2 separate regions of the Homo sapiens genome follow, and region 1 is linked to region 2. The links come from fine-mapping of genetic effects on gene expression. A gene starts in region 2. The other region holds a variant in brackets. All regions are shown on one strand. Distances are from middle to middle. Region 1 has its middle 26 kb from the start of FRA10AC1. Region 2 holds the start of FRA10AC1 (FRA10A associated CGG repeat 1).

What was found. PIP is the estimated chance that this variant, and not a neighbour inherited with it, causes the effect.
Region 1: its variant is fine-mapped to the expression of FRA10AC1 in hippocampus (GTEx, PIP above 0.99). The same link has a PIP of 0.9 or more in prefrontal cortex and tibial nerve.

Annotation. Positions count from the first base shown.
Region 1 is chr10:93,724,040-93,733,815 of GRCh38, reverse strand. No RefSeq gene overlaps it. Among named protein-coding and RNA genes, the nearest start is that of FRA10AC1, 26 kb to the right of the region's middle. The variant C/T (reference allele first, on the strand shown) is at 4,254.
Region 2 is chr10:93,697,696-93,707,471 of GRCh38, reverse strand. It overlaps FRA10AC1 (FRA10A associated CGG repeat 1), which reads left to right and starts at 4,880. Exons shown (of 14, transcript NM_145246.5): 1 at 4,880-5,097; 2 at 7,366-7,442; 3 at 9,076-9,171; 4 at 9,291-9,336. The coding sequence starts at 7,366. RefSeq lists an enhancer at 4,592-4,891.

The sequences.
Region 1 (9,776 bases), 26 kb before region 2:
ATTCATCAGATAGCTCACATATCACCATCTCATTAGGGTCAGTTACTGGTTTCTTTGCTTTGTCTATTTGGAGAGTTCATGTTTCTGTTTGCTGTTGTTTCTTGTGGACCTACATCTATGTCTTTGCATTGGAAGATCGGTTATGTATTTCTCCTCTGTCTGGCTTGTTTTGGTTTTTATTGGATATGTTTGCTTGAAGTTTCTTTACTGCTAGGTCACAGCCTCCTTTTTGGCTCTAGGTGGTGCCTTAAGCCCAGGTTCACTTTGGCTCCAGTAAACGATTATAGCACTGTCCTTTCCAAATAGGGGAGGTCCCAAAGGGGATGCACTGGTAATTTGGGAAGGCTGTCTAGAGGTTTGTGCCCAGGGGACTTGTAGGATGAATCCCCTACAATGTGGCAATGCAGAAAAGCTGCTCTGTTTTGGTGCCTCCTTTGGCTGAGTGAAACAGCATAGTTTCCAGGGCTGTAAATGGCAGTCTTAACTCCCCTCTTTGTCTCTGCCTGTTCTCGGGAATATTTCTCCCTTCAGGTGCTCATGATGCTTCCCATAGGTTAAGGCAAGGAGAGGTCTCCTGACAGGGAAACCAAAATGTTGGAGAAACTGGTTGTCCACCTCAATTTCACTTTTTTGAGGGGGATATCTTTCTGTTTTGTGCTGGGAAGAATGGAAGGAGGGGTACTGCAGATGTGGAAGTCTGAGTATATTACCATCTGCTTAAAGTTTATTTATTTTTATTTTTTTAACTTCGCTGTGGCCCCAGAAACTCTCTCATGTTGATATTTTGGCTCTGGGATATTTCTGGTTATGATCTCAGAGCTGTATATTTGTTTTTGGTTTTCTGTTGGGGAGAGTGAAGCAAGCTTGTTTCTACATTACCATTTTGGAATCAAAAGCTGAAATACCCTTTAATCTTGTATTGAAAATACAGCTTTTACGTGGATGCAGGACTGCTATAAGAAAGGCATACCCATAGACTCTAATATGATTAGTGAAAAAACAAAGTCCTTACATAACAAAGCATAAGGAAGGTGAAGGAACTAAAGCTGGAGCATTTAATGCCAGCGAAGTATGGTTTGATAATTTTAGAAAGAGATTTGCCTTTAAAAATGTCAATATAAGAGAATAAGCAGCCCTTACCAACCAAGAGGCAGCAGATAAATTCCTGGACACTGTTAAGAAAATCATTGAGGGCTAAGTGCAGTGGCTCACACCTATAATTCCAGCACTTTGGGAGGCCAATGTAGGCAGATCACATGAGGCCAGGAATTCGAGACCAGCCTGCCCAACATGGTGAAACCCCAACTGTACTGAAAATACGCACACACAAAAAAATTAGCCAGGCATGGTGGTGTGTGCCTGTAATCCCAGCTACTTGAGAAGATGAGGCAAAAAAATCACTCGAACCAGGAGGCGGAGGTTGCAGTGAGCCAACTCGTGCCATGGCACTCTAGCCTGGGTGACACAGAAAGACTCTATCTCAAAAAAAAAAAAAAAAATCATTGAGGAGAAAGAATATCTACCTGAACAAGTTTTCAGTGCAGATGAGATTGTGGATATGGCAAAAAAAAAAAAAAAAAAAAAATGGAGGGAAGTTGAAGGTTTTCAAGATGATCCTGGAGAAATTTAAGAGCTAACAAACACCTCACCAAAGACAGCAGAAGACAACTTGATGGAGATGAGTGATTTCAAACCAGTGCCAGGTGATGAAGACGATGTATGGAAAGCAGTTCCAGAAAGCAAATTGACATTAGACAATCTAGCAGAGTGGTTCTGATCATTCATGACTGCTTTTGACTTTTTTTCTAACATGGACCCTACTAAGATATAGACACTGAAACTAAATCAAATGGTGAAAGAAGGATCAGTACCATATAGAAAATTTTTAGAGAAATGAAAAAGCAAAAATCAAATAGAAATTATAATGTATTGCTGTAAAGTTACACTGAGTGTACCTGGTTATTCCACCTTCTCTTCCACCTTCTCCATCTTTTCTGCCTCTGCCACCCATGAGACAGCAAGACCAACCCCTCTTCTTCCTCTTCCTCCTAAGCCTACTCAACATGAAGATGATGAGGGTGAAGATCTTTATGATAATCTACTTCCGTTTAATGAGTAGTAAATATACTTTCTCTTCCTGATGATTTCTTTAATAGCATTTTTTCTCTAGCTCACTTTATTGTAAGAATACAATATATAGAAAATATACAAAATATGTGCTAATCAACTATGTCATTGATAAGTCTTCTGGTCAACAGTAGGCTATTAGTAATTGAGTTTTTGGGAAGACAAAAAGTTATGCACAGATTTTTGACTCTGCAAGGGGTTAGCACCCCAACCCCTGCATTGTTCAAGGCTCAACTGTAAAATAACATGTGATTGTGAAGGGTTTTTATTAACAATTTTAGGCATTGTTGTCATGTAATGGAGATGTTTGAGGGCCACAGGGAGAACCGCTAGAACTTTCCAAATCATGCCAATTAAGTGCCCACTTGGTCACACGGTTATTGATTTTTACCTTAGTGTAAGAGCACTTACTCCCTTGTTACCTTAAATTCCTTTTGCCACCCATCTGGTTCTCCAGTTTCTAATTAAAATTTGGAAGTTTCATGAAAATTCGGCAGGAACAGTTTTTATGAAATGTTCGCTACAGTGGAGCAGATTGTGCTGCTCATCCGAGGCAGCTCTCAAACTAATTTAACTCTCAGCTCTGTAGACTTCATACAGAAAGGCAGGGGAAGCAAAAATGGAGCTGTGATGAATGATGCCAGTTGAAATGCCTCATGCTTCTGACTCATTTCAGAACCATTATCATCTCGATAGAAACATCCCCTCTACCCTCCATATTTTTGCGAGGAAACGTTACTAGAAAAGCAAGGTCCAGAGAGAAGCAATGCATTAATGTTGTGATTAGGCTTAAAGATAAAGCAGCACTGGACATCCAGAGTTGTCTTGGTCACTGGATCAAAGGGAAGAAATAGCATTTGAAGATATGGGAAGGGAAAAGTCTACATACCTAAAGCAGGGCTGACATCATATGATGATAAATAGCTGTTACTTACTAAATATTTACTCTGTGCCTGACACCGTGATTATAAATAAATGTTCTCGTTTGATTCTCAGAATTGCTGAATTAGTCAGGTGAGGCTAACAGCCATAACAAACACCCTCAAATCTCAGTGGCTTGATATTTTAAAGGCTGATTTTTACCCATGGCACAGTATGGGCAGAAGGCGGGGGAGGGATTCAGGTTCCTTCCTGAATAAACTCACCCTCCCCAGGACCTTGAAGTTCTTCACTGGATCTTCTGCATCTCACTGGCAGATGAGGGTAGAGGGAGCAAGTTCACATGGCAGGGACCCCATGGGAGGGTTCTTAAGATCTAGGCCTGGATATAGCATGCATCACTCCTGCCAACATTCCATTGGATAGAATGCAATCACATGGCCTGCCTAGCTGCAAGAAAGGTTGGGAAAAGTGCACAACGACTATGACCAGGAGGAAAAAGAAAGTGTGAGGAACACATAGTCTCTGACCTAAGTACTTATCATTACCCCCATATTACAGATGAAGCTGAGTTTTAGACAGGTAAAGCAACTTGCCCAATAGCACATAGCAAGTAAATGGTAGAATCAGGATAGGTTTTTGGCATGGTAAGTTCTTGGAAGAGCCCAAGAACCTGACTACAAGTTATTGAGCTTTGCAAGTAGAGCAGAAACTGTCACATTTACGGAGCACGTTCTACAAACCTGGGCATTTTTTTTTTGAATTTGTGGACATTACAGTGAAATATGTAGACATTATAGTTTTCAACACTACGATGGAAAGACAATAGTGGGAACAGGGTGAGGACAAGGTAATCTAAAGGTGATACCTCTTTAAGTACTTGATTCCCCGCAAAGGTTCAGGTCTGGTCCCCTGGCTTGCTCCCCAGGTGTTAGATGATAGAACTGAGCTCATCTTTTGCTGCACGCAAGCATGCACCCTTAACCACTGCAGACTCTCTCAAAGATTTATTTAAGATTCCCTTGTTTAACAGCACCTACTTTGATATGGCTACAGGGGAACCTACCACATTTTAGACTTAGGTGCAAAGCATTAGATCTTATCCCACCACTTCCTTGTCTCACAGAGCAGTGGTAGTCCCAGTGTGTCACCTGAGGCCTAAGGTGATGAATTTATTTCCCTACGCTGTGTTCAGGCCATGTAGAACTATCAATATCCACATAAACTCACCATGTTCTCTTGACTCC[C/T]GGCCTTTGTACTCATTGTTCCCTCAGCCCCAATGAGTCTAGAATCACTGGTGTGGACCTAGATGTCGGCAATTTTCTTTAGCTACTCAGGTGGTTCTATTTTATGGCCAGGGTTGAAATCCAATGACAAGATCAGTCTAAGCCAATCGTGGCCAGTCACATTCTCCTTGGCCAGATCAGTGAATGAACATACTCCTTATCAATCAACATAGATAGGATTTTGGGAAGTCAATTCTCATGATATGATCACTATCAGTTCTCTGATTGTCATAGACTATCTTGAGTGTATTTTCAAGGCCCCCTTGTATTAGTCATTTCTCACACTGCTATAAAGAAAAACCTGACACTGGGTAATTTATAAAGAAAAGAGGTTAAATTGGCTCACAGTTCTGAAGGCTATACAAGAAGCATGGCAGCATCTGCTTCAGGGAAGGCCTCATGGAGCTTTTACTCATGGCAGAATGCAAAGTGGGAGCAGGCTTCTAACATGGCAGGAACAGGACCAAGAAAGAGAAGAGAGAGGTGCTACATGCTTTTAAACAACCAGATCTCATGATAACTCACTCACCTGCTATCACAAGAACAGGACCGAGGAGATGCTGCTAACCCATTCATGAGAATTCTGCCACCATGATCCAATCACCTCCCATCAGGCACCACCTCCAACAATGGGGATTACAATATGACATGAGATTTGGTGGGGACACAGATCAAAACCATATCACTCCTATAACACTTTCAGCTTGTTCCTATCATAGAATTCTTCCTTGTTATGCAATAGGCCAGCCTGGGAGATGCTGCCCTAATGATTTGGAAGACTGTCTACTCCTATGTGCCACTGTAGCTCAGTAGGGCACCCTAGGGCCACCGCCACTCTGCAGAACACTGAAGTGGTGACAGTGGGTTCTAGTTCTCTGCACCAAGTCTAAAATGTGGTAGAAAGGGGAACTTTCAAAGCATTTTGTACACGTTGTGAGGAAAGAATGATTGCCGCTTTAAATCTTGACTCCTCTGTACACCACTTGGCCCTCAATATAAAATCTGTAAATAGCCCTGCCTTTCTACGTCTCCCAGCTCCCCACCCTGCATGGATTCTGTGTCCAGACAAGTGAAGGTTTCTTGTGGCTGACCCTGAGTTTCCTGCTACTCTGCCTTTGGTCACACTGTTTGCTTTCCTAGTATGCTCATCTCTTCCCCTTCCCAAACTCCTCAAATGTTACCACCTTAAACTAAAGCTAAGGGTTTCTAGGTTCTCCAGCGGAGAGTGGAGTCAAGAAAAGGGTTCTAGGAAAATTTCAGGGTGTGGATGCTGCATCTGTTGATCCAGCCACCTAGGCACTATAGATGTACCTTAGGCACAAAGTGGCTCTGTGTGTGTAAACTGGAAGGTCGGCACCCCACAGGTGCTGTGACATCAGAAGCTCAGACCTGATTAGTGCAGTTGTTCCAAGGGTGGGCACAGTCCTGGAGCAAGAGAGAAAAAGAGAGAGGGAGGGAGAGACAGAGATAGACACACACACACAGAGAGAGAGAGAGACCATTTATCACCTAAAAATCTCTAAGAATCTTTTAGGACTGTCAATAGTTATCTGTCTTGATACTGTAGTAATATTAAAACAAATAGGGTCTCATTCTAGATAACTGAACTTTATGGTTTTTGCACTGATGTAAAGCAACACAAACAGCAGACAACAGAGCCCTTTGGTGGACTCACCAGACTTTCTGGTTTCTTCTATGAGGTAATATTAACTAATTAACAATGAATAAGTTAATCACTTTGGACTATCTGCTCCTGGTACTTCTATCAGGGTACTTCATGGGAAAAGTACCCTATAGGAGTAGGATAGGTTCCCCTGATCAATAAGATGAACTTCAGTTATTATGGTTTGAGCACCATATTAGTCTGTTTTCACGCTACTGATAAAGACATACCCGAGACTGGGTAATTTATAAAGAAAAAGAGGTTTAATGGACTCATAGTTCCACATGTCTAGGGAGCCCTCACAATCATGGTGGAAGGCAAAAGGCACGTCTTACATGGCAGCAGGCAAGACACAGAATGAGAGCCAAGTGAAAGGGGTTTCCCCTTACAAAACCGTCAGATCTTGTGGCACTTATTCACTACCATGAGAACAGTATGGGGGAAATCGCCCCCATGATTTAATTGTCTCCCACAGGGTCCCTTCCACAACACCTGGAAATTTTGGGAGCTACAATTCAAGATGAGATTTTGGTGGGGACACATCCAAACCACATCAAGCACTAAAACAAATGAGACATTATTTTGCACCAAAGGTAGATGAAGCAGGACATGCCAATCAAATTGATGAAATAAAGCACCTTTAATTTTGTGTCTCATTTACTTCCTCAAATTTCTGATGTACTGAAATGATTCAGTAAGTGCATACTAAGGGCTTGTCATCTGCTGGGCACTCTTGAAAGTGCTGGAGTGTGGCAGGGAACCAGGTAGAATGGTCCCTAACCTCAAGGAGCTTCTGGTCTGTACCTAGAAGCTCTTGCTCTGTTTTCAGAGTCTCTCTTTTGCTGGTATCTGGCTATGATAGAGGGAATTCAAAAGCAGCTTTAAAATGTTTTCTGCAGAAGAACAAAGCAGTAGTTACCAGTATGAGAAGAGGGGAATTGCTACTTTGACACCTACAAATTGAAGGATGGATGCCTTTGTTTCACATCTGTTTTCTCCATGTGAGAAGCAGCCAGCTCCACTGATTGTGTACTGTTGAGGGTGACCACTCCATTTTTCTCTCCTGGAAACATGTAATTTAATGTGAAGCATCTATTGATGAACTGCAAGTATGAAGAATTCTCAGGATAATGTACTTGATTTTCCCCTTGAAATGCAATTCACATTTATTAAGTATCTTTTCTATACAAGGCATGGAGCAAGGTGCTTCATGCACATAATCTCATTTAAGCCTCACAGTTGCCTCTGAGGTAGGTGCATCATTAGCCAGCTTTTATAGACAGGATAAAAGGGAAAAGAGGAAATGGTAGCCCAGGATTCCAAAAAGTGCAAATTCATTTCCAGTGGATGAATACACTTATGATTTTGTTTCTCTTAGATGGGTTATGATAAACATCTTTAATATTAATACCTGCCTTACATTTGCATAATTCTTTCAACTTTTCAAAGCACCTCTTTTATACCTTATTTGATGCTCATGCTAAGCCCTATGCTCCTAACAGTCTCGAACTCCTTGATGGTGTCTCTTTGAGAGCCTAAATCTCTGCAGAGCTGGCTTTTGTTGCATAGCTAAGGTTCAGGACTAAGCTAATAAAAATCTTGCTTCCAGACATCTAATCTGCATCTTCATTTGCAAGGTCTCCTTGGGATGGTGTGACCTGCTGTTTAGTAAGGACATCAGTGCTCTCATACCAGTGATTACTATGGTTACATCTGCCCCAACATTCTCTAAAGCCCTAGATTTTAGAAATATTGGTGTCTTTACTACCTTGTCCTTGTCTGGATCTTCCTGTCATGCCTGAGTTAATGATAGCCAAAGGGAAAGGAATGAAATAAAAAGAAGGAAAAAGACAGCTCTGCGAGCTTGTACACTGAGGTGCATATATTCTCAAAAAAACCAGAAACCAGCCTAAATGAAGAGGGAGGGGATGGTGGCAGATGAAGCATAAAGCAGGTGCTTACTTAATTGCTGCAGCTGGTGCCAAGTGTTTGGCATAATTTTTCTCCTTATTTTCAATTATTGGCACTGTTATTTTACTTTTTAGCTGAAGCATCTGAGAACAGTCTAGGAAGCTTCTCTGCTCCTCTCACTTTTACAGGAAAGCAAGCAGGCATTTTTTTTCCTGAAAATATTGTAAATAAACACAATCCTTGAAATTTTTTCTTGTGCCCCAAAACAACTCATCGACTATAGAAAAGGAAGAGAAATTGGCTGAAATGCAATTTGACGTTTTCATTCTGCCAAAATTACTATGGGTTGAATTTTTAATTTGATTCAGAAGACGATTCAACTCTTCAGCCTCATCTATGTGATTTTGATTTCAGAATAGCATGTCTGAGACCAGAGCTTCCTAAGCTGTTTTCTTTTAAAACACAGATTGTTAAATTCTCCAATTGACATGGCATATTCATTTTGCTATTTGACTTTTTTCTTTTAAGTAGTGAAGGTAAAAGTTGCAAAAATATTGGATGAAAGTCATTTCATGCCCTGTTATTCCACCAATTTTTAAGAAGAGTAAGCGCTGTGCCAAAACCTTATATAGAACAATGTGCAAAAAACAATACAAGGACCCATGAGGAATGCAAAGATAAACAAGATGTAGTCTTTTTCTTTCAGCAGATTTAGTCCTGAAAGGAGAATAAAATGAGTACAAGCAGTAACATAACAGTTTTGAGGGAAGTAACAATGATATGCTAAAAAAAAAACAGCACACGTCTATCAATTACTTTTGATGGCAGATCTAACATAAAGAAAATAAAAATGTTTCATCTTTCTCCCTTTTAAAGTAATTCTGCTTAGAGAATGCTATTTAATCACTGTATTTAAGGTGACATTTGAATTCTGAAGGTTTTATCTCCTATTGACTCTATTCTAGAGAGAGAGAGAGAGAGAGAATACGCATGTGCACAGTTTTGAGCAGAAAAAAATATTTTTATTTTAGAATTTTGTTTCAGATTGCATTTCAGGAAAAGGAAAGGAGAAAAATCGTGCTCCCAGAGGGCATTGGGAAATGTGGGTTACAGTCTTGTTTTCACCTTCAGCCATTTGTGTTTCTGGGTTCCTGAGTGCTTAGGCTGGGTTACTCCAAGTTTCCTTTCAGTCTTCATAGTCTGAGTGTGATGCCTCGCATCTTGTCCTGAATGAATCCAGTGGCTTTCCCATAGGGAGCAAAGGAAACTGAAGGCTTGAGGGAGTATCCAAGGTGCCAGGAGGTGTAGGGAAGAAAGAATGGTACTACTGGATGAGACACTCTTGGGCCTCTCGGTTTTCTTAACTTCCTATTTAAATACTTCATCATTTGTAGAAAGCCTTAAGTTCAGAGCCATTCACAATTTATACTGGGTCTGATTCCTTTTCATTCCCACTGTAGCATTGGCTTTTAAGAATGTAGAAGCATGGCCTAGCCAAAATATATATATATATGATTTACAGGCTAGTTAGAGTTTGTGCTGAGCTGTGTCTGCAAATAAGCCTTTAAGGTAAATGAAAGAAGTTCTAAAGAACCTGAAAAGGAAATGGGAGAGAGTGTGATGTGACAGTGAGGAATGTCATTTTTCTCTGTGGTTCTTTCCTGTCTAATTTCACAGCCAGCAACCTGGTCCAGGCTCTAATTAACCACATGTCCATAGGCTGCTGCTGATGCTCTAACAATATCCAGTCTTCAGACTGTTCCTGTCCAGTTTACACATCATTGTCCTTCCTCAAACACTCCCTTCACCATGGTGCTTCCCTAGGCAGTGATTTATTATGAGTCCTTGTTACCTGGTACAACTCATCTCTTTTGTTTATTTACTTATTTATTTATTATGATTACATATAT
Region 2 (9,776 bases):
ATTTGATTTCAGATATCTACCAGTCCAAACCACCACTGTATTATGTACAATACTTCCCTAGCTCTAAACTAATCTCTGCACCCTAGCATTTAAGAATGCCCCAAATCTAGCTCTAATCTCTCTTTCTGATCTTTCTTTCACTAATCCTTTTCAAAAATTCTTCTCCAGCTCAAGTGAGCTACTCAAATTCCTCTAAATAACCTGTGGATATTTCCACCTCTAATCCTTTACCGAAACTCCCTTGCCTTGACTGCCCCCTCCTCTCCTCTCCTCTCCTCTCCTCTCCTCTCCTCTCAAGAGCTACCTTTAAGTCATAGCTTAAGTCCCACTTCCTCTACAAAGCCTTTCCTGCCTCTTACTAATCCCTCTGTCTCAATGTATGTGGTACCTTTCCTCCATAAAAAAAGTTTCTAATTCTTTTAAGTATCACAAACCACCATGGGCCTTATTGAAAGGCAATATGTATGGTGGTCAATAGCGTGAGCTTTGGGCTAGGTGCTGTGGCTCACACCTGTAATCCCAGCACTTTGGAAGGCCGAGGTGGGAGTATAGCTTGAGCTCAGTAGTGTGAGACCAGCCTGAGAAACATAGTGAGACCCTGTATCTACAAAAATCTTTTTTCAAATAGCCAGGTGTGGTGGCAGCAGCCTATGGACCAGCTACTAAGCAGGCTGAGGTGGGAAGATTGCTTGAGCCTGGGAGTTGAGGCTGCAGTGAGCCATGACTGTGCCACTGCACTCTAGCCTGGGCAACAGAGAGATAACACTCTCTCTCTACTTATCTCTCTCTATATATACATATATGTGTGTGTGTATATATATATGTATATATTTAGTATTAGTACTCACATTGCTATAAAGAACTACCTGGGACTGGGTAATTTGTAAAGAAAAGAGGTTTAATTCACTCGCAGTTCTACAGGCTGCACAAGAAGCACGGCTGGGGAGGCTTCAGGAAATTTACAATCGTAGTGGAAGGTGAAGAGGAAGCAGACATGTCTTACATGGCAGGAGTAGGAGAAAGAGAGCAAAGAGGGAGGTGTTACACACTTTTAAACAACCAGATTTCTTGAAAATTCTATCACAAGACAGCACTAGGGAGATGGTGGTAAACCATTAGAAACCACCCCCATGATCCAATCACCTCCCATTAGGCCCCACCTCTAACATTGGGGATTACAATTCAACATAAGATTTGGCTGGGGACACAGAGCCAAACCATATCACACACACACACACATATATATGGTGTGAGCTTTGAAGTCACTTATATTTGTGCCCCATTTGCTTACTCATGACTCTGGAAGTGTTATATAATTTTTTTAAAAAAATCTGTTTTCTTATTGTAAAATAGGGATAATAATAGTACCCACTTCATTTGTTCAATAAATATTCTGAGCAACTATCATGTGTCTGGCACTGTGCTGAGCACTGGGGATTCCACACTGAAAAAGAGAGGTATGCTTCCTGCCATTGTGGAGCTTGCATCTCAGTGAGGGAAACAGGGCTAAATTATTACTACGTATGTAGCTAAGTGCAATGGAAAGTAATGTGCATATTATCAGTAATCCTATCTAGTCTGTGGGAGAGATGCTCATGAAAGGCCTTTCCTTCACCTAAGTTGAGTTTTGAAGGATAAAGAGGAGTTAGGGAGGCAAACAGAAAGGGTTTAAGACCATTCCGGGTAGAGGAAATGGTAAATTTGAAGAGGCATGCATGTTGAAGAAACAAAGAAAGCCCAGCGTGGCTCCATAACATCAAATGTTATGGAGGTTAAGTGAGACAGCAGATGGTTCTGGATATTTATCGGTATATAACAAACAACCTCAAAGTCTTAGTGGCTTGAAACAATTATACTTATTCTGATTATTAGTCTGCAATCTGGGTGAGGCTCAGTGAAGTTACTTCATCTCTGCTCCACTCCATGTCAGCTAAAGAAGTAGAGTGACAAACCCAGGCAGAAGCTCTAACACCTTTTGCAACTTAGCATCAGAAGTGTCTTAGCATTACTTCTGCTATAGTCACTGACATGCCCAGATTCAAAGCTGTGGCCATAGGTATTAGCTTATGTTAGAGAAGTGTCAGCATCATATTATAAAAAGAACATGGAAAATGCAATCTTCTCAAAGACACACAGTATTAGAAGAATGCATATTCAGCCAGGCGCAGTGGCTCACCCCTGTAATCCCAGCACTTTAGGAGGCCAAGGCGGGATCACTTGAGGTCAGGAGTTCGAGACCAGCCTGGCCAACATGGTGAAACCCTGCCTCTACTAAAAATACAAAAATTAGCCAGGCATGGTGGCTCACACCTGTAGTCCCAGCTACTGGGAAGGCTGAAGCAGGAGAATGGCTTGAACCCGGGAGGTGGAGGTTGAGCTGAGATGGCACCACTATACTTCAGCCTGGGTGATGAAGTGAGACCCTGTCTCAAAAAAAAAAAAAAGAAAAGAAAAGAAAGAATGCACATTTGTTGGGCGCGGTGGCTTACGCCTGTAAGTCCAGCACTTTGGGAGACCAAGGTGGGTGGATCACCTGAGGTCAGGAGTTCGAGACCAGCCTGACCAACATGGTGAAACCCCATCTCTAGTAAAAAAATACAAAAATTAGCCGGGCGTAGTGTGCGCCTCTAGTCCCAGCTACTCGGGAGGCTGAGACAGGAGAATTGCTCGAACCCAGGAGGCAGGGGTTGGAGTGAGCTGAGATCACGCCACTACACTCCAGCCTGGGTGACAGAGTGAGACTCGGTCTTGAATAAAAAAGAATGCACAGTCATAGTTTATATCAGAATTATTACTTGGTATTATCACCACCATCATCACCCAACTTCCCTCATCCTGACCACATACTTAATATAGTATTTTGTTGCTTTGAGTTACATAGCATTGGTGCACATTTAAATTTTCATATCCATTGAAATAACATATTTTATAAATTAGGAACAACAGGTTCATGCATGTACTAGACACTTGGTATATGATAGAATATATTGTTGTAGTTATTCCACACATTGTCTGTCTTACTAGTCAACCTTCAAGGATAAGGAGTTGCTGTTACATACCTGTAACCCTGATGTCTAGGGCAGTGTCCTGCCCAGAGTAGGCACTGAATAAATGTTTGTGTTTTTTATTGTTGTTGAGCTATAATTGTTAACTTGAGATTTCCTAAGCAGGTGGGTTTTCTATCCTGTATTATTTCTAGTTCAGATCATGCAATCTATGCCTAATATATATTTTCTATTTACTCTTTTTCAGTAACTGCTGTCTCAAAGTAAAAAATGGAAATCTTTGCCTGAATGGACTGGTAGCAACAGATCTGAAATTCTTAGAAATGTTGGAACCAGAAGCTACTTCCCACACAATCCATGAAGTGGGGGAGAGAGAGACAGAGAGAGAGAGAGAAAAGAGAGAAAGAGAGAGAGAGAAACTGGGTCTTATAGAGAGACAGACACAAGTACTACCCAGTTCTCGACCCTCACCAGGTTTGTGGCTTTAGGTTCTGTGCCTCTCTTCCTTATGTGTAAAATGAGGCTAATAACACAGCAGCACAGGGTTGTTGGAAGAGTAAAATGAAGCAACAAACAAGAAGATGCTAGGGATGGTAGAAAAATGCTAATAAATGTCAAATATGGATAGAAAGGAAATTGGATATGAGGTATAGGTCTGTTTAGTTTTATTAACAATAAAATAATTATATATTTAATATATTTACCAAAAAAGAAACTGCTTGACAAAATAATTCCATATACTATAACGTCAAATTGTAAGGCTTCCTATTGCTTTCACTTTTTTTAGTAAAAGTTTTTATTGAAGTATAATCTGATTGCATTTTGGAATAAGTTAATTTACAATAATTTAATTTATCTTATAGCCTTTTAAGATCACATTCAGTGCAATGGATAAAGCAGAATGTATCTATAATTTATTGTCAGGGTTAGAGACTTGAACTGATAAGGATATCGTTATCTACTGTTTAGGGCAAAAGATGTAAAATGACTGTGCATTAAGTGCCAAGGTTTTCTCTAAAAAGGGCCCACTGTAAACGCCAGAAGCGTGCCAGTTCAATTCAACAAATATTTAATTAGCACTTGTGATTTCCAAGGCACCGTTTTGGGTACTGAGGAGGAAGCAAAAAATGAATAGCTGCTAATGCCAGCGAGAGACAAGACATGAACCAAACAACTAGAGTGGAAAGAGTGGGGCGTCGTGATGTAGAAAACGCAAAGCACAGGAAGAACCTAGTGGCGCTTAAAATAATCCAACTTTTCCTGCCTTTTTTCTTCTTCTTTTTAAGATTCTATTTTGGATCCCTTTTCGCATGTGCCAGGTCGCTTGTCGGCAGAGAATCCTCAACCCTGAGAAATCTCTCCTCCTATTCTTTCTTTCCTCACAAATTCGATGAGCTCTTCTGCCATCAGCACTGCTTTTGGAATGGTATCTATTGTGTGGGTGGCGAAACGATGGAGAGATATTTTTGTTCTAATTATGAGAACTGTTTTACTGGGGGAAGGAGGGAGAGGCTGATCTGAAGCGCTGATGAGCTGCTCTGAGAGGATCCTCCGAGGAGGCGTTACTAAGGTTACTAGAGAGAGGACGGCAGGTGATAGGCACGGTAAAACAAAATATATTTTCAAATGAGAGGCGTGGGCTAAGCAGCAAGCAGTGCCAGCGGTACTAGATGCCGGATTCCCTAGAGGGGAAAGGAAGGAGGCCCAGGGAAAAACTGGGAGCCGCGACTTGGCGAAAGCTGGAAGCCTCTTCGTCCCTTTCCGGGCCGTTTCTCCCGCTGCCCTTGTTTCCCGGAGCTGTTCTGGCTGTAGCACAAGGTCGGCGCACTCGGGGGACGGTGCCATTTAGATGTAACACGTGGCCGTGTCGGACCGGAAGTGGTGCCCAGTCGGGACCCGTAGGGAGAGGCGGGTTGCGGGCGGCGGCGGCGGCGGCGGCGGCGGTGGTGGTTGTGGCGAGGCTGTGCGGCAGGGCGCACGGGACCTGTGCTGCAGCGGCTCTCTCAGGCCGTGGGTCGTCGCTGCAGCTGCCGGGAAAGAAGGAAACGACGACTCCGGGGGCGAACTTGGCACACAGGGAGGAAGGGAAAGGGTGTGTGAGGAGGGCTGTGGGTATATTTGGCATCAGGGAGAAGGACCTCAAAACTTGTTTTTCATATAGTACTAGCTGATCGTCGGGTTTTTTTTTGTTTTGGTTTGGTTTTTTTTTTTTTGGATGACAGATTCTGGAGACACCTGGCATCTCCGTTTTTGAGTTTCTCCCCGCTCTTGTCAGTTGATTCGTAGGCCTGAAGTGAGTGAGAGCTTTTTAGTTCAACCAGTGAGTTAAGATAGGTATGGGTCGGATGGAGCGGCCAGCGAATAAAGAAATGGGAGAGTGGGAGCAAGAATAGGAAGTCGTGTCCTGGGGCGAGGGAAAAGATGATGATGATGATGTAACATTTACTGGGTTTCACTGTACAAGACACCGTTAAAACCCTTTAGATGAGGCAACTCTTTTAATCTCCATTCGTATGAGGTCAGCCATCTTACTAGCCTCTTTTTATAAATGAGGACACTGAGGCTTGGAGAGGTTAAGGAACAGGCCCAAAGAAAGACAAATGGAAAGTGCAGAGCCAAGCAGTGAAATCTAGTAGGCTGATCCTAGAATATATCTCTAAACACACTACAGCTGTCCCCCATCAAGATGTAAAGAACGTGAGGACATAGGACAAAGAGTGAGAGGACAATATGGCTTGAACAGATGTGGTAAGACAGCTGGAGTTGACCTAAAAAAGGGTGTAAAATCCAGGTGTGTAAGGCAATAACAGATGTAAGGGAGGGTAGAGTTGGAACTCGGGCTTTCAAACCTTCATCTCCAACCTTAACTAGCATCTTCCTATCTAGGATTTTAGTGGGGCAGAGAAGAGAGGTATATACCCACACACCTATGTTTGAAAATGGAATTACAGACTTTAAAGGTTATTTAAAGATTTAAACAACTTAAAGATTATTTCATGTAGCTATCTTATTTAATAGATGAAGTCCAGGGAGATGAAATGACTTATTCAAGGTAGCCAGGACTAGAAACATGTCGTTTACCCTAGATCCAATGCAATGAAGTTTAGAGAGTTCTTTCCTCTTTTTCCAGCTGCACTTGCTGTCGTTATATTAGTTTTAACAATTTGATATATCATTTAACCTGGACTGTTCCTTCCAGCCATGTAAATTAGTTATGTATGACATCAAATAGTCCATCCTTCCTTCTTAGTGTGTGTTCCAAATTCAGTGCAAAGCTGGAACTAGGAGCTTCTTCCAATACAATTGAGTGGCAACTGAGGTCTTCCAGCATTTCTAAGAATTTCAGTTCTAAAATGAAGTCCCAGCATTTTGGGATGCTGAGGTGGACGGATTGCTCAAGCCCAGGAGTTTGAGACCGGCGTGGGCAACATGGCGAAACCCCTTATCTACAAAAAAAAAATTTTTTTAAGTTTGCCAGGTGTGATTATGCACTCCTGTAGTCTCAGCTACTTGGAGAGGCTGAGGTGGGAGGATTGATTGAGCCCAGGAGGTTGAGGATGTGAGCCATCAAGGCGCCACAGCACTCCAGCCTGAGCAATAGAGCGAGACTCTCCAAAAATAACTGGATAAATAAAATGAAACAAGAGAAAGCTGACTAATCCAAAGGGCAAGGTGGTTTACCTTAAAGAAACTCAAAAGAAAATGGAAATCTCTACATATATTGAAAAAGATTACAGGAAAATTTTCATCAATTGATGATGTACTGTTCACAAATACTGTAATTCTCCTGGAATATAGTAAATCATATTCCAGAGAGGAAATTTGGAGTAATTGAAATTGTGGGCGCAGGAATCAAGTACAGCAGATTAGCCACTTACTGGATTTGTAAATAGATTTACTTAACTTTGATTACTTCATTCCTAAATGAAGATAACTTTCTAACTTGCAGAATTAGAAGTGTTGTTTGTAAAGTATTTAACACAATGTCTAGAACAAAGTTGGTGATAAACACACAGTGATTATTACTACTCTGAATCAAAAGTGAAGGATTGCTAAACCTTGTAAGCAGTCACTGCAGCTTTTAGGCCTGGTTTTTCAGTGAAAAGATCAAAGAGTAGCCTTCTTTGTTCACCTAATGATAATTAAGGGTGAAAAATGTTGATGCATTTCCTGAAAGGTATGTCTCTTATTTAAAAGCGAATGAAAGTTTTAGATGGCTAGATGGCCTGTGAATAGGAATCTGCCCACAATGATCCTTTAAAACTATTGTGGCTGTTTAAGATAACTTATTTTTGAATTATTGTTTCCTGGACAATTGGCAACATAGATTCTAAATAGCTGACTTTGTACTCCTTTACAGATGCATGGTCATGGAGGCTATGATTCTGATTTTAGTGATGATGAACGCTGTGGAGAATCCAGCAAAAGGAAAAAAAGGTAAGTAATTTTTTTTTATTGATCTATTTTTCACATCCTTTCTAGATTAATATGAAGTATAAATAAACAAGAGTGAAATTTTTGAATTCTGTTTACATGTGAAGACAATTGCTCTAGTGAATGAATTTTTGTTCATTAAGCTAATACATTGATTAAAAATTGGAGAACAATTGTGGGAAAAATAAAAATTAATTCTGCAAAGGGGTTTATTGAAAGGGAAAGAAGAGTTTCAGATTTCTGGAATCTTTTCAGAAATCAGTGAAACCTTTTCATTACATATATTTTTCATTCAACTGTCAAGGACTGTTTATTTGTAAATGTTGTAGCTCAGAAGGGGCTTGAATGGTGGTCTCTTGCCATTACTTGCCTTCAAAGTGAAGTTAATATGGAGGATGAAAGTATAATGCAGCACAGTTCTTACGCATACGTGAATGAGCAGACTAAGGTCACGGGAAGAAACTCAAGGAAGGTTTTTTTGAATTGCAAGAGACAAAAACTCTTAGCACATAAAGCCTGTGCGTTATAAGCAGGATACGTCTTGGTGGAGCTGCTGTGCGTAGGAGCATTGTTCTTAGCTTTCAGTGCATAGAAACTCAGTTTTATACTTTGACTCAGGAGTGGTTGACTGATGTATACTAACCAAACTTACACGGCTGTTGACTGATTTTTTTAAGCAAATGTATAGAAATTGGCTTATTATTTCACACTGAGAGCAATATATTAGGCATACTAACAGGTTCTGAACATTTTTATAGGATACTCAGTCTCTGCAATAAAGGATAGTACTAATTATAATAAATTACATTTTTGATGCTTTACATTTTCTAGATTTTTCATTCAAAAATACTACTTTGTAAGAATAGAATTTGAGCAAATCTAGTTGGATACTCTGCTCCAGGATTATATTCATCACTATAACTAGGGCTGACAGTCTATGGCAGGGTGTCCAGTCTTTTGGCTTTCCTGGGCCACATCGGAAGAAGAATTGTCTTGGGCCACGTACTACAGTGGAGCACACACAATTGTGAATCTGTTGGTTCACATTGTTGGCCTGAAGCAGTGCTGGGCCTGCGTAAAATACACTAATGATAGCCAATGAGGTTTAAAAAAATGTGAAAAAGTGTCTTAATGTTTTAAGAAAGTTTACAAATTTGTGTTGGGCCACATTCAAAGCCATCCTGGGCCACATGAGGCCCATGGGTTGGGCGAGCTGGATCTGTGGTTTGTGTTCTCTATAATCAGCCTTGCTTTTTGTGTATCATTAATTACCAAAAACTTCCTTATCACTATGTTACAGATAGAGAAATGAAGAAACAAAGAGATAAATAATTGAATCTTATTAAGATTAAGGTAGTAATTGACAGAATTAGGATTTGAATCAGGAAGCTAGGTGATATGACACTAGAGTCCATGCTTTTGTTAGTTTCATCTTCCCCGTGTTATAGGTATTAAAATAATGTTAAGGTATTAATTAAGCTATTTAAGGAAATGTAAAATATCTCATTAAAGATCAGTGAGTCTTCTTAAAGTTAAGACTTACATTCTTTAAAGTATATTCCAGTTATGAAAATATAAAGAATTAGAAAATAACCTTTGAAAAAAGTGAACTCTTATTTTCTTCTTAATATATCAGGACAGTTGAAGATGACTTACTGCTCCAAAAACCATTTCAGAAAGAAAAACATGGAAAGGTGGCCCATAAACAAGTTGCAGCAGAATTGCTGGATAGGTATGGTATTTCAGTGTCAATTCTATTTCTTGGTTTAAGTTGCTTCGGATTAGGGGATTTGATTATGTTAATTTGAATATAAACATTTTGAATTTTCTTAAAAAAATTTGTTTTAACAGGGAAGAAGCAAGAAATAGAAGGTTTCATCTCATAGCTATGGATGCTGTATCCTTTTTTTATTTCCAGATTTTTATAACTAGTAGAATATTTTAAAATCTGCTTTTTTGTTTTATAAAATCTTGTGAAGTCAAATAGGCTTTTTTATTTTTAAAGATAAGTATTTAGTGATGTAGGATTTTGCCATTTATACTTTTGGGTACAATTCTCTTTTACTAATATATAGGAAAGATTTAGAGACAAAAATAATAAAACATATTACTAGTACTCTATAAATAGGTTTATAAAGTACATGAATCTGCAAATATATTTTCCAAATTGTTTTTTCAAGCTTTCAACATTTCCTTTTCCTATACTTATCTTTAGTCTCATTTTAATTTATTCTCTTCCTACCTGGTTCTTTGCTATTTAAGGTCTCTATAAAACTTGTATTTAAAATTAGGTCTATCCAGTCTGTCCCTGGATCTAAGGAAAAAATAAAAATAAAA